2 linked regions of the Homo sapiens genome follow. The protein of the gene in region 1 binds, or shares a complex with, the protein of each later gene. Each region holds a gene or a part of one and is shown on either strand. Other genes may lie near its edges. The genes, in order: AIRIM and CINP.

Region 1 (7,473 bases):
TATCCCACTAACTAGCTTATGAGGCCTTGAGCAAAGTGTCCAATTTCTCTGTGCCTTAATCTTGTCATTTTGAAAAATAGGGATATTATTAGTTATGAAGAAAAATTAGTTAATGTATGTAAAACACTTGGTACAATGCCCATCTGGCATAGAAAGCACAATATGCTCACTGACCACTACTCTATTCTATCTCCTTTGTAGTACCTATACTTTTAATTACATAATTGTATGTGGATTTTTCTAATAGCTCTTTTCTACTAATCTGTATGTTCCTGAAGGCAGAGACAATGTCTGTTTTATTCCCTAGTGCATCTTTAGCACCTAGCACTGTGACTGACACATGCTCAGTATTTGGAGAAATAAGCAAATGAATGGCTTAATAAATAAAAGGGCAAGTCAAAAGGATCATTCAATGTCTAATATGTGAGCAGACCATGCATTTCTATCCAGGAAGGAGACTACATGCTGGATAGTTAATAATAAGGAAAACAGAAAAGGGCAACCCAGCAGAAAAGTACAGCCTCCTGCATTTCTCCGGACATTTAATAAGGGAGTGCAGAAACAGGCTGGGATTTTTCTCTGGCCAGGAAAACTGATGTGTCTTTTTTTTTGAGACGGAGTTTCACTCTTGTTGCCCAGGCTGGAGTGCAATGGCGTGCTCTCAGCTCACCGCAACCTCTGCCTCCCAGGTTCAAGCGATTGTCCTGCCTCAGCCTCCAGAGTAGCTGGGATTAGAGGTATGCGCCACCACGCCCGGCTAACTTTTTTGTATTTTTAGTAGAGACAGGGTTTCTCCATGTTGGTCAGGCTGGTCTCGAACTCCTGACCTCAGGTCATCTGCCCGCCTCAGCCTCCCAAAGTGCTGGGATTACAGGCGTGAGCCACCACGCCCAGCCTGATGCGCCCATTTTTAGGTTAGCAATTTCCATAAGCTGCAGAAGGAGCTGCTTCGGGTTATTCTTCTATCTGAGCTCTGGTTAACTAACCATGTCATTTATTCATTCATTTTTAAATGGGTAAAATATACATATATTTTTAAAAATACTATTTTCTGGCCGGGCGCAGTGGCTGACTCCTGTAATCCCAGCACTTTGGGAGGCCTATGTAGGTGGATCACTTGAGGTCAGGAGTTCGAGACCAGCCTGGCCAACATGGTGAAACCCCGTCTCTACTGAAAATACAAAAATCAGCGGGGCATGGTGGCAGGCGACCGTAATCCCAGCCACTCCAGAGGCTGAGGCAGGAGAATCACTTGAACCCAGAAGGTGGAGGTTGCAGTGAGCAGGGATCGCACCACTGCACTGCACTGCACTCCAGCCTGGGTGACAGAGTGAGACTCTGTTTAAAAAAAATTAAATAAATTTCCTGATGTGTGAAAATTATGTGAAATTCACATTTCAGTGTATCCATAACTAAAATTTTATTGGAATACAGCCCATCCATGCCCATTCACTACAGCTGTTTTGGACCTGTAAACAGCAGAGCTGAGTTGTCCGACAGAGACCGCCCCGCCCGCCGCCCCCCAACCACCCCCCCATTTTTCATAGAGAAAAATGAAGTAGGGAAGTGAGACAGAGAGTGAAAGGGTCTGCAATTTTCCATAAGTGGTCATGTCAGATCTCATTAAAAGGTGACATCTGAGCGAGCCCTTTCTGAAGGGTGTCACCTAACCCCAAGGGGCTCCTGGCCTCCGCCCAGGGAAGCTCTCCAGCTCTTACCGAAGTAGTCAAGCCAGTTCATCTCGCGCAGAGCCTTGGGGAGCCGCAGGATCTCGATGTTGTAGAGGTTATCCACCTCCTTGAGGAGGTTCTGCCTGTCTGACTCAATTTGCTTGATTCGTATTTCCACTGCGGGAGGGCAGAGCCGACAGGACACGGGTCACGGGCGGGCGAATCTGTGCAGCTCGTGTCCCCACCCGCCAGCATCCCGCGACCGCCCCAGGAGGCCGCGACGGCCTGGCCCCTTACCTTCACGGTCGAAGTCTTTCAGAAAGGAGGCGAGCTTCCGCCTCCGTAAGGAGTTGGTCTTGGCCACCCGACTACTGCCCTTCCTAGGAGCCATGGCGCTCGGCGGAGGCTGCGGGGAGCGGCGGAGATGGGGCAGGGAAGCAAGAAACTGGGTAGGGACGAGGAGGGCGGACGGGGACCACCCGAAGAAGTCGCCAGGCACGTACCTGCGGTCCCGAGACAAGGGCTGAGCAAAACCTCGCTGTGCCAGTGAGAGAGAGCGGCTCTACAGTCAACCGCCACCCAATTCAAACTCCACAGTCACAGGCTGACGAATGAGAAGCCGCCGTCCCACAACATCCAATCACAAGCAAGTTCCTGCCGGCCCAGGGTCTTCCGCCCAATGCGCCCCCTATAGCCTGAGTGCGACAGCGAGGCCGCCGCCGTCGCGGGTACTCCTGGGAGTTGTGGTCCAGGCTTGTTTCCCCGCCCTCCCCACCAACCCACCCGGCTCCGCCCTGGCCGGCTGCGAACTATACAAACTACTACTCCCGGCAGGCCTTGTGGCGGCTCTGCAATACCCCAAGCTCTGGAGGGCTGGGGGCCTACTAGGTCAGGTCGGCTGTAGGATTCTGCTCCAGGGTTGGCGGCTGCTTCTTTCTGGCCTGGCTGCCACTGAGTAGCCGAGGGGCCGCCGTGACCCTCTGACTGATTGACTGGCTGGCTGCCTACGTCGGCGCTCCTCAGGGCCCCAAGCTCCTCAGGCCGAACTTCGGGCAAGTGGCGGGTCGGCAGAGACAGAGCAGCCCCGGCAGGGTTTGACAGAGCAAGGGGGACGGAATGATAGAGGAGCAGGGCAGGGGTGCAGGCTTTGGGGGGGGCGCGCTATCCCGCGGCCAGTCTGGGCAGCGAGTGGGGGGAACCCTGTCGTTCCTCGCTCCCCCGCGGGCCGGCCACTCCCGCCCAGTTCGCGTGTTGGCGCCTCGACTGGGTGCGCAGCGCGGGGCTGCGACTTCAGGTGCAAGTAGTGGCGCTTGGCAGCTGGCCACACGGTGACTGCAGCATGAGCCGCGGCCACCAGGCTCCAGGGAGCCCAGGGCAGGAGGCAGCTCTGGGTGTCGTGGCCGTGGGCCTGGGAATGGGCGTGTAGACGGCGAGCCCCGCCGAGCCGCGGTCCTGTCGGAGGTGCTAACTGTGCATCTTGGTATCTGCCCACGGCCACAGGGTTGGATTGCTCAAGAGTTGTGCTGAGACCCAGAAGGCTAGAGGCTAGTTTCGAAGCTGTAGCTCAGGCTGAGTCTCAAGGCGGGCGGCGACTGGACGGCCAGACCGGCGAGCTCTTGACGGGTTTGTGGCCTGATTGTTTGGATTTGGTGCTTTTCACCTGTGGATGCGGTCTGAAGCCATGTCAGAGGGGTTGTGTTTAAGCGTGCATGTTATAGGCTATGGGAGTGATAATCTTGCCTCTCCCCCTCTGAGTTGAGGAACAATCGAAGAAATAAGCAAAGGTGCCAAGCAGGCTCCTGATGGGCACCAGCGAGCTTGGGGACAGAGCAGTCCAAGCATAGAAGTCCTGGCAAGCCTGGACCTTCCTGGAAAGTCCTTTCTCTCTCTTCCACCCTGGTCTGTTGCTCCATATGCAACAAATATTTGAATGTCGCTCTTCCGCCCGAGGTCAGCCCTGGGCAGTGGGTAGTGGGGGTGACACCCCAGTCTGCTGGGTGCCTGAGGATCTCCATCAGTCAGATGGCCAAGATGAGACGGGATGACAACCCGTACCTCATGTAGGCTTTCCCCCTGCAGGTGTTTTTATGCTGCGCAAGTCGGGCTTCCAGCCTCTCGGTTTCAGGGTTTCCTTCACCCTACTCCCCAGTGAGCCCGAACTCCCTGGGCACCTAGGACGTCCACCTGCATTTTAGCCAGAGCTGCCACGTCAGGAGCCCGTGATTTACTAGTTTTTGCCAGTTGGTTGTGATACACAATGTCAAAAGTGTCATTAAGGCACAACCGGAGGCGCAAGATAAGAGGAAAAGACTCCACAGCTAACAGGACATGCCACCACCGCCACCCAATTTAAACTGCCGCAGGCTGACAAATGAGAAGTCGCCGTGTTTGGACGGTCCCAACATCCAATCCCAAGGAAGCTTCAAGCCGAGTGGCCAGTCCACATGTTGGACTACAGTACCCAGAAGTCATTGCGGCACTACGATATATTTTCGCGACTCAGTAGCCAGGCAGGCCCGCGGAGTAGCTTTGTGGGGAGGTCGCGTGTGAGCATGCGCAGAGAGACTGTGGGCGCGTGGTGCAGTCCCTGGAGGGTTCTCACGCTTTGGCTGTCTGGACTTTTAAGTTTTTCCGCTTTTTCAGGAAGGCGACCGGCAGCCTCGGGCAGGGGAGACAGGACTGTATGTCAGAGAAGAGACGGCGCTTGGACGCCAGGAATCCTCTGAAGCAGGAGACTGCCCTATCCAGGTTACCCTTCCCGAGGGGAAACCAGGGTCTCCTTCAGAAAGCTGAGGCAGGCCGGGCGCGGTGGCTCACGCCTGTAATCCCAGCACTTTGGAAGACCGAGGCGGGCGGATCACCTGAGGTCAGGAACCCCGTCTACTAAAAATACAAAAATTAGCCAGGCGTGTTGGCGGGCACCTGTATTCCCAGCTACTCGGGAGGCTGAGGCAGGAGAATTGCTTGAACCCGGGATGCGGAGGTTGCAGTGAGCCGAGATAGCGCCACTGCACTCCAGCCTGGGCGACAGTGAGACTCCGTCTCGAAAAAAAAACAAAAAAAAAACCCTGCTTCTGGAGGTGAGACAACTCCTGTCTGAACACGATAACAGAGATGACGCCCACCCTCGACCCAGTGCCTCCCCGACTGACTTGGCACCCCAACGTGGTTATTTTCTGTTTTTATCTTTTTCAGCAGAAGATGACTCAAGACCGGCCTCTGCTTGCCGTGCAGGAGGCGCTGAAGAAGTGCTTCCCCGTGGTGGAGGAGCAGCAGGGCCTGTGGCAGAGTGCCCTGCGGGACTGCCAGCCCCTCCTGTCCTCCCTCAGCAACCTGGCGGAACAGCTGCAGGCCGCACAGAACCTGCGGTTTGAGGATGTGCCGGCGCTTCGGGCCTTCCCAGATTTAAAAGAGCGGCTGAGGCGTAAGCAGCTGGTGGCTGGTGACATCGTCCTGGACAAGCTAGGGGAAAGGCTGTAAGCAGCTCCCTAGTGCTGTTTCTTGGTGGAAGGATTTTAAAACGAGGTGTTTTATATGTAGCTAGTGTCAGTCCAGAAGGTGTTTTTCTCCTTGAAAGCGTGGCATGTGGAGGTATCTCAACCTTCCTTACTTCATCTGGGGCAGTGGGACCTCGGTCAGAAAGCCATTTTCTGGCATTTTCTTTGTCAGAGACTAGGCATGGCAGTGGTGGGCTTAGTAGAAGTCACAAAAGAAGAAGAGAAAAGGAGCGGAGAAAGCCTATTAGCTCTGCCCTATAGTTTTCTTTGGTAAAAGGCAGTGAGGAGCTGTGTAAACTTAGTAGGTGCTAGAGCTAAGGGGTTTATGTATATTACGTTATAAAGTCTCTTCAACATATCTGTGACTTAACTGCACTTAATTCTATGCAGGTAGGAAACTGAAGCTTAAGCAGATTGCCCATGGTGACGCAGCTAGAAAAGGGTAGAGCTGGGATTCTAACTCAAGTGTGCCTGACACAAAGGCTAGAGCTCTTAATCACCACTTTGTTCTGCTGTAGATTGGTGTCTCTGTGCCCAGGAGTAGCACGTCTCCAAGTTCTGATATGCTTGTTGTCAGACCCAGTGCCTGCGTTACAGATTTTTTTTTTTTTTTTTTTTTGAGACAGGGTCTTGCTCTGTCACTCAGGCTGGAGTGCAGTGGCACAATCACAGCTCATTGTAGCCTCGATTTCCCTGGTTCAAGCGATCCTCCCACCTCAGCCCCCCAAGTACCTGGGACAACAAGCGTGCACTTCCATGCCCAGCTAATTTTAAAATTTTTTGTAGAGATAGGGTCTCACTATGTTGCCCAGGCTGAGAGTTACAGGTTATTGAGGACAGAGGGGAGACAGGGCATGTGTGGCCTTTCCTTGAACTGGAACAAAAGAAAGTTCCAGTATATAGAGTCTGTCATAGACTAATAGGAAACTGTCACAGATGAGGACTTTCCTTTTATTTATTTGTACAAAATACGTTCATTAGGCACCTTGTGGGATGCCAAGCACAAGGTGCCAAGAATATAAAAATGAACCAGATTTAGTTCCTGTTCTTAGTTGAGTAGAAGAAATAAACAATCAGTGAATTAAATTGTGGGATGTCCTAAGATATTGATAAGTACGGCTTGTGTGGAGTGGGGAAGTTTCTGGGGAGGAAGTGATATTAAAAACCTAATGGTTGAAAAGATGTAAACAGAGTCAAGACGTGGGTATGAGTAGTGTGCATAGAGAATAGTATGACTGGCCCGGCACGGTGGCTTATGGCTGTAATCCCAGCACTTTGGGAGGCAGATCACTTGAGGTCAGGAGTTCGAGACCAGCCTGGCCAACATGGTGAAACACCATCTCTACTAAAAATAAAAAAAGTTAACTGGCTGTCGTGGCACACACCTGTAGTCCCAGCTAAAGGGGAGGCTGAGGCAGGAGAATCTCTTGGACCTGGGAGGCAGAGGTTGCAGTGAGCCAAGACTGTCCCACTGCACTCCAGCCTGGGTGACAGAGCAAGACTCTGTCTCAAAAAAAGAGAGAAAAGTATGACAGGAGCAGAGGCCTGGTAAGAGATGAGATCAGCTGGGTATGGCAGCTCAGCCTGTAATCCCAGCACTTAGGGAGGCTGAGGCAGGAGGATCGCTTGAGCCTAGAAGTTTGAGACCAGCCTGGGCAACATAGTGAGATCCCATTCTCCATGAAAAGGAAAGCAAAACAAAAAAAAGATGAGGCCAGGTACGGTGCCTCACTCCTGTAATCCCAGCACTTTGAGAGGCTAAGGACAAGAGGATCATTTGAACCCAGGAGTGCTGTGAGTACCTATGAGTGCTTTACTTAATATTTTGTCTTTTATTTATTTTTATTTTATTTTTAGAGACAGTCTCACCCTGTTGCCCAGGCTGAAGTGCAGCGGTATGATCATAGCTTACTGTAGCCTCTAACTCCTCCTGCCAGCCTCCTGAGTAGCTGGGATTCCAAGAGCATGCCACCATACCTAGCTAATTTTTAAAATTTTTTGTGGAGATAGTCTTGCCATATTGCCCAGGCTGGTCTCAAATTCCTGGCTTCAAGCTGTCCTCTGGCCTTGCCCTCCCAAACTACTGGGATTACAGGCATGCCACTGCACCTGTTTTTTTTTTTAAATGTTTTAATTAAAAAAAAATATATATTAGCTGGGCACGGTGGCTCATGCCTGTAATCCTAACACTTTGGGAGGCCGAGGTAGGTGGATCACCTGAGGTCGGGAGTTCGAGACCAGCCTGACCAACATGGAGAAACCCCGTCTCTACTGAAAAAAAAATACAAAATTAGCCGGGTGTGGTG
Region 2 (7,987 bases), on another chromosome or scaffold:
AACTGGACAAATAAATGTGGAAACTACAAAGTCTGAATGAATGTGAAAGTTCCTGGAAGAAGACAATATAGAATATTTTTAACATTTTAAAATTCACCAGATAGAGCTGAATCCTCTTCCAGCTTAATGGCTCCACAAAGTTTTTACCTTAAGCCCTTTGTTTTCCAAAGATTGGAAATAAGGTAAAGTTGTGACTGTCTGCTAAAACTCTTCAATGGCTCACGTTCCCTTCCCTACAGGATAATCTAGCCCTGACTCCCGAGTACTTCCACTATCTAGTCTCAGGCACTCTGATACTTTAAATTTGCTCAGAGTAGCGTGGCCCATGAGTGCTAATCATTTCAAGACACTGAGACAACAGAGATGCAGAGTTGATCACGATGCTGCCACTGCCCTTCTTGGTAATCAGGAGGAAGTCCAAAATCCTTCCAGACCTAGCTACCCCTCCACATCATCACGTACATCAACCCACACCTTGGCCCCCCGTCAATATCCAGCGAAAATGAACTACTGGCAGCTCTTGAAAAGCTGAGGTGCCTGCAGGCCTTTACACGTGTTCTCTCTGCAGGAAAGCTCCTTCCTTCCTCAGGCTCACGATGCCCATCCTCCAAGATGCACCCGGATCCCACTGCCTGTAGGAAGCAACCCCCAGACCACCAAGAGCCAACTCAGGTTGTTTGTTCTCCCCGAACCCTCCTGTGCCCTCTTGCCTTCTCTACTTTGAACCCCACAAAGGCTTCTCACTGCCCACAGGATAAAGTCCTCTTGAGGAATCCAGGACACACAACAGCTGGATGGTTTGATGCCTCAAGTCAGAAGACCACACTGCCTGCGTCTGAACCCCAGCTCGCCAGCTGTGAGATCTTGGGCAACTTAATGTACCTTTCAGAGCCTCAACATTTTCATCTGTAAAATGGGAATAAAAATAGTATCTATTTCATAGGATTGCTGAGATTAGATAATATATGTGAAGCTGTGAGGCCTCGCACAAGGCAAAAACCCAGTATCTCACCTGTTAGCTCAAGGGCCTCTACTATCCAAGCTCTGCCCACCACTTCAGCTTCTACCCTTTCCCACTTGCCCTCTGTGCATCAGAGCTGGCTCTGTACAAGTTCTGACTTTGACCTGGAATATTTTTCCTATCTGTGTGTGTCCCCACTCCCCTGCCTCATACTTAGTATCCTCACTTTAAAATATCATCTTGATTTATCATTCATTCTTTACTTAAACAACAAATATTTGCTTACTGCCTACAATACGCCAGGCATGGGGGAATGAAGTGATTGAATGAGACGGACCAGGACCGTTTTCATGGAACTTACTTTCCAAAGGGGAGGCAGATAATAAACAAATGACCACGATCAGTTCAGATCATGATTAAGTGTGTGTGGAAAATAAAACAGGGTCTTGTGTTAGTGTGATCCCCTGAGAAGGTGTCGTTTAGGCTGAGATTTGAATGATGAAAAGCCAGAAATAGGGTAGGTCAGTAGTATGTGCCCTAATTATGATAATGAGGTTGGTGAGTTCAAAAAACAGAAAACAAAACAAAACAAACAAGCAAACAAAAAAACCAGTGTGCTGGAATGAAATAGACAGAAAAGGACTAGTGCGTGAGTAGGTGATCAGACAACTAGAACCTAATAGGCCAAGATAAGAAGTTGGACCGAGGGCAGTGGCTCACGCCTGTAATCCCAGCACTTCAGGAGGCCAAGGCGGGCGGATCACGAGGTCAGGAGATCGAGACCATCCTGGCTAACACAGTGAAACCTCATCTCTACTAAAAAAATACAAAAAATCAGCCGGGCGTGGTGGCGGGCGCCTGTAGTCCCAGCTACTCAGGAGGCTGAGGCAGGAGAATGGCGTGAACCCGGGAGGCGGAACTTGCAGTGAGCCCAGATCGCGCCACTGCACTCCAGCCTGGGTGACAGAGCGAGACTCCGTCTCAAAAACAAAACAAAACAAAACAAAACAAAACAAAATAAAAAAATGAAGTTTGGACTTCTAAGTATTAGCTTGGTGCAAAAGTAACAGATTTTGCCATTACTTTTAACAGCCAAAATTGCCATTACTTTTGCACCAACCTAATACAATGGGGAGTGAGCAATGAGCTCTGGATAGGGCAGTGAAATTATCTGATTTAGGTTTTTAGAAAGTCATTTCCACAGAGAAGTATTCCTGGATCCCCCAGGTTGGGTTACGACTCACCACTAGATATGTGGTACACCCTATAATTCTGCTATCATGATATTCACCAGTGGAGTGTATTTGCTTGTTTAATGTCTATATTCCCTGCTAAACTGGAAATTCGACTAGGGTAGGAACTATGTCTCGTTCTCTTTCAAACCTTCCACACATAGGAGGCTTTGCATAAAATGAGGTAAATGGAGGAATAGCTCTTACCACCTGTTCTATAATTGTCTAAGGGTTTTCCCCCCAACAGGAGATTCTGAGGGCAGGATCACATCTGATTCATGGTCAGCCTGACTCATACGGGGCACATATTTAGGAACCAAAAACATAACTGACTTCAAGAAACTCAAGGGCTGGTAAAGACAGACCAGTCATCAGCGTCACAGGACAGGGTAGGGTGAGGGCACAGTGGCTAAGTTACTTATCCCCTCTGAGCCTCGATTCCCCATCTGCAAAATGGGGTTGACATTACTTCATGGGACCACTGTGAGGTTCAAATGAGATGATCCACTTAAAGTGCTTGGAGCAGTACTCAGCAAACTGAGCACTAGGCGAAAGCCAGCTTTCATTACAAGCAGAATGTTCTGACTGAGGGCAGTTCAGAGAGGAGTTTCTGGACGAGATGAGCATGCAAGGCTTGGTACCCAGTGAACTCTGTTAGTACTAATTTATAGTGACAATAATTACAATTTGGATGTCGGATCTGCTGACACTCATTTGCGTATATCGTCCCGTTCATCTGTCACTGCACATGTGAAAAAACGGAGGCTCGGCAAAACTGTCTCCCGAGCAGCTCGCAGAGGCTGCGAGGGGCCTGCGGGCTAGGCTGGGGTAAGACAGAGGACCTCCATTTAACCTCATGTAATCCGGGGAGCTCCTGAGCTTCTGGTCCAACCTGCGGCCTAAGCAGTAACATTCACAGCCACCCCACCCCGGGAAAGGAACCGATCTCACGCACCTTCCATAAGGTCCACAGATATCCGTAGAAGGAGACGCGAAGCCCCGCCCACCCCACCGGAAACGCATTTGCGTCACGTCCGCCCCGCCCGCTGCCACTTGTGGCTCTGCCGCTCTAGCCCCCGGCGGAGCCAGCTGCTGCTCTTCGGTGCTGGCCCCGGTGCCGGCCCCGTTGCCCAGGGAACAGGCTCCCGGCAGCCCCCGCGGCCCGGAGTCCATCCCGCCTCCTCCGGCCCGGCGGGGCCGACGAGTCCGGAGGGGCTGCCGCGGGAGGTGAGTCCGGCGACGCCGCAAGCGGCCCCGACGCCCCCGACGCCCCCGACGCCTGGCCCCGAGCCCCTCCTCGGCCTCCCCCGGGCCACTCTTCCCTTGCCTCAGCCCCGCAGGGTCTCCATGCCCGTCCGCCCCGTCTCCCTCGCCCGCGGTCTCGCCCGCGCGGAGTGGCGGACACTAAATGCCACAACACACGGAGCGCCTGGCTCGCCGCCCGCAGAATCCGGCGGTCCGCAGCGGGGAACAGGGGCCGCCCGCCCCTCCTCAGGCCTCCGCTGCGCGTCCCGCGCCCTCGGCCCCCGGCCCCACCCTGCATCCCGGCTGCCGGTCTGGCCGCGGGCTCTGCTCCTTCGCCTTAAGATTGACGTCGTGTTCTGTCCCCCACTCGCAGCCCGCGTCCCTTACATCCGCCCACCGGCGCCTGGCCCCAGGCCTTGACACTCATCCAGTTGGTGTTCAGTGTTCGATGAGTGGATAAGTGAATGACTCCTTTCCCAATCCTATTTGAAGGCATGGGAGGCAGAATAGGTAGTAAGTGTTAAAGGATGGGGTGTCCTGGAGTCAGAGCCGGGCAGGTCCCAGCGGCCCCTTCCTAGCTCTGTGCTGGGGCAAGTGCCCTACCTCACTCCGCTCCAGTTTCATCACCAGTGGAATGGAGATGAGAATAGTTTCTACCTCTGGCTTGGTAAGAGGATTAAATGGGTCAGTGCATGTAAAGTTAAGCACGGTGCCTGCCGCTGTACATTTCAGTAAAGGGGAGCCCCTGCTGTCATCTGTGCTAGCCTGCGTTCTCGCCCTCTAGTCCCTTCTGATATGTCTCTGACTTCTCATGACTTTAGTTTCTCCTTCTCTACCTCCATTTCTCTTCCCTGCACTTTTTTCTTCCTCTCTTATTGGGATTCAGGAATTTTATTCTGTTCTGTGACTTATGTTCCATGTGTTGGCAGAATGTGGGATACCAGCCTGGGTGCATCCTTTTCTCATCTATTGGAGTGACCAGTTGCACTTGTGGACTGCCTCCTTGCAGCCAAGGTCTTGTAGACAGAGTTCTGGGAAATCTCAAAACGCAAATCCCAGGCATAGGTAGAATCTGGGAATGAAGCCACTGTAGCTCCTTGTGATCACCAGCGATTCCTGGTCTTTTAGGCTGCAGGACTTTGTGTTTTCTCACACCCAGCTATAATGTACCTTGATAAACCTCTGACCTTATTTTTGTTGTTGTTGTTGTTAACCTGACTTACGTCCCATATTGGTGGTTATTTGGCCATCGTGTGCCAGCACTGTGCCAGGCTGGCTCTAGGGATGCTGTGGTGAACCAGACAGACCCTTCCTGAGGTCACTGCCTCAGAAAGATCATGGTCTGGCCCATGAACTTTAAAAGGGAGAACTAAGTGCAGGTGTAGGGGACACACAAATTGAATTTTCAGGACTGCCTTGGAAAACCAGTGGTGGGGAAGATGGAATGAGGATAACCCTCTTCTGAAGGAGTGACTAGGAAGTAGCTTTTGTTAGGCATCAGCTATATTATACCCACGTGTCTTTTTCAATAGAAGACTGGCATCTACTGGATTTTTTTTTCCAATTTTTTCTTAAAGAAGTTACACTTAAGTTTGGGGAGAATTTCATTTCATATTAGCCGCTGTAGGAGTTGAAAAAAATGGCTACTGGAACTTAGTGGGAAGAAAAGGAAGGAAACAGGCATCAGGCAGAGGCAGTTGATTGAACTTGGGAAGATGAGGAATAGATCAGGAAAGGGTTATAATGAAAAGCTTTGGTGTCAAGCACGAAGAGATTTCTAGATTCAGTAATGCACAGAGAGATCAGTAAAATTAGAAGGGAGTAGTTGATGGCTTTGCGAATTGCTAAGGTAGAAGGGAGCTGTTACTCAAGATGCATGTTCAATTTAAAATGAATGTATTCTTTGGACCTGGACATAAGAGTTCTATTGACTTTTTGCCACTATTTTATATTTAGGGCTGTCATACTTGGGTGAATCTAGCACAGTGCTTTGAGAGAGAGATTCATTCAACAAACGTGTATTGAGCATTGATTGTACCATACTCTTTATTGGTCTTTTAAAGCACCACAAAGTATACAGACTAGAAGAACATAGGTGAAGATGAGAAAGAGTCCATTGAAGGGGAGAGAAAACAGATAATGATGGTGCTGTGCGATAACTGCCATCATGGAGTTCTGTGAAAGCAGAGAAAGACCAACCAAGTATCTGAGGGAATTTATGAAGGCTTCCTGGTGGCGGAGGACTAGTTCTTACAGGGCACATGTGGGGGAATAGGGAAGAGTGGAAAGGGACTTTGTTCTGCAGAGACATACAGGTTATGGTGTGTGCAGGGACTGTGATGGAAAGCTGATGGATGCACAAACAAAACGTGGCCTGTCTACACAATGGAAGGCTGTTCAGCAATAAAAAGGAACGAAGTACTGATTTGTGCTACAACATGGAGGAACCTTGAGAACATTAGGCTAAGTGAAAGCAACCAGACACAAAATACCACATATTATATGATTCAATTTTGATGAAATCTCCAGAATAGGCGAACTGTAGACAGAGAGGAGATCAGTGGTTGCCCAGGGCTGAGAGAAGAAGCGTGTAGAGGGGTGATTGCTAAAGGGTAGGGAGTGCACAGTGTGTGGATGGAAGAGTGGCCTGAGATGAAGTTAGATATAGACTGTTTTGTCATAGTGTCTAATTTCCATGCTTGTGTTAGGCTTTAGCTTGTGACCATTGGGTAGCCAATGGGGATGGGAGCAAGGAAGTGACAAAATTTTGTCTGGAAGATAAATGACTGCCTCAGTCTCATTACGTTCCTCCTTAATAATTTAATACTCAAATAATTAATAGATGTCGTAGCCAGATTTCAAACATAGATTCTACAATAGGGATACAAATTGTTGCTTCCTAGGGATTTTGGAGAGAATCCTGAAACCATTAGTGTACCCAGAGCACTCTGATAACATGGTTATTGTACAGCGAAGTGGATGACTTAGACTCTATATTAGTCCTAGCTCCAGTTTGAGAAATCATCCATCTGGGTGGCAGTTGGGTGTTAGTAGTCAGCAGTGAAGGCTAGCTGCCACCTTCCAGGGTTATGAGATTGACAGGGCTAGTGGGGAAAGGAAGCATCGTAACTTGAAGGATGCCATAGGGTGGTGTTTTGTATTTTTTTAACTGAAATAGTCATGACTAAGGAAGCATTATTCATTATATTTTTATTTATTTATTTATTTTTGAGATGAAATATCACTCTGTCACCCAGGCTGGAGTGCAGTGGCACGATCTTGGTTCACTGCAGCCTCCACCTCCCAGGTTCAAGTGATTCTCCTGCCTCAGCCTCCCAAGTAGCTGGGATTACAGGTGTGCGCCACCACACCTGGCTAATTTTTGTATTTTTTAGTAGAGATGGGTTTCGCCATGTTGGCCAGACTGGTCTCGAACTCCTGGCCTCAAGCAATCCTCCCACCTCGGCCTCCCAAAGTGCTGGGATTACAGGCGTGAGCCATCATGCCCAGCCCAATTTTAAAAATTGGATTGAGACTATTGTTTTGCAGTAAGACCTGAAGTTAACAAATCTTTACTGAGCATCTACTCTGTGCCAAAGCTATTATTAGATACTAGGATTTACCTTGGTAAGCAAGAGAGAATTCATGTTGCTTACATTCTTGTAGGAGAGATGATTTTTAAATGGTTTAGCAAATAAAGCAATTAGAGGTTGTAATGAGGATTATGAAGCACATATGATAGAGGAAAGAAGGGACAGTTGGGTACTCTTGAGTGATCTGGTCAGAGAAGGCCTTTCTGTGGTGGTGATATTTAAGCTGAGACCCCACAGTTGAGAAGAAGCCAGATAAATGGAGTGAGATCATTTATTCTGCATAGAGGAAATAATTATGACACCTGAGTGGGACAGAGTGGGTCAGTGGAGCTAGAACTTGGAGGACAAGTGGAGACGGGTAGAGAGGTGACAGGGGAGCTGCAAAGGGCTTAGACCACACGGGGCATTTGGTTTTTATTCTTAGAGCACTGGGCAACCAGTGAGGAGTTTTGAGTAGAATGGGTAGTATGGTCTGATTTCTCTTTGAAGGAGCTGATATTTTCCTTTGTTTTTTGGGGGGTAACAGCTTTATTGAGATATAATTTACATGCCACACAGTTCACCCATTTATATACAATTCAATGGTTTTTACTGTATTCACAGCTATGCAACCGTCACTACGTCAATTTTAGAACTTTCTCATCACCCTAAAAGGAAACTCCGTACCCTTCAGCAATACACCCTAACCCCTTCTTCTCCCAGCCCTGGGCAACCACTGACCTACTCTGCCTACAGCTTGCCTATTCTAGACATTTTGTATACATGGAATCATATAATATATGGTGTTTTGTGCCTGGTTGCTTTCACTTAGCATAATATTCTCAGGATTCCTCCGTGTTGTAGCATGAATCAGTACTTCATTCCTTTTTATTGCTGAACAGGCTTCCATTGTGTGGATAGATCACATTTTGTTTGTCCATTCATCAGTTGATGGACAGTTAGGTTGTTTTGACATT

Evidence for each region.
Region 2: the proteins of AIRIM (region 1) and CINP are in contact, whole or in part, in a cryo-EM structure (PDB 8RHN), measured with the Homo sapiens proteins. Residues at the interface, in NP_001289959.1 of Homo sapiens: Leu107, Gln110, Ala113, Ala114, Asn116, Leu117, Phe119, Val122, Ala124, Leu125, Phe128, Pro129, Asp130, Leu131, Arg134, Leu135, Lys138, Gln139, Ala142; in NP_116019.1 of Homo sapiens: Leu161, Leu162, Thr165, Glu169, Asp177, Leu178, Leu180, Ser181, Tyr182, Ser184, Met185, His188, Pro190, Tyr191, Val192, Glu193, Ser194.

Annotation. Positions count from the first base shown.
Region 1 is NC_000001.11:37,687,279-37,694,751, reverse strand, and holds the start of AIRIM (AFG2-interacting ribosome maturation factor), read left to right. Parts: upstream 1-4,222; 5' UTR 4,223-4,353; coding exon of another isoform or gene 4,354-4,536; 5' UTR 4,537-4,750; intron 4,751-4,865; coding exon of another isoform or gene 4,866-4,871; coding exon 4,872-5,146; intron 5,147-7,473. Other genes in the region: CDCA8 (borealin), read right to left, coding at 1,719-1,847, 1,968-2,061. UniProt on the Homo sapiens protein: Part of the 55LCC heterohexameric ATPase complex which is chromatin-associated and promotes replisome proteostasis to maintain replication fork progression and genome stability.
Region 2 is NC_000014.9:102,359,697-102,367,683, forward strand, and holds the start of CINP (cyclin-dependent kinase 2-interacting protein), read right to left. Parts: upstream 3,195-7,987; 5' UTR 3,156-3,194; coding exon 3,149-3,155; intron 1-3,148. UniProt on the Homo sapiens protein: Component of the DNA replication complex, which interacts with two kinases, CDK2 and CDC7, thereby providing a functional and physical link between CDK2 and CDC7 during firing of the origins of replication.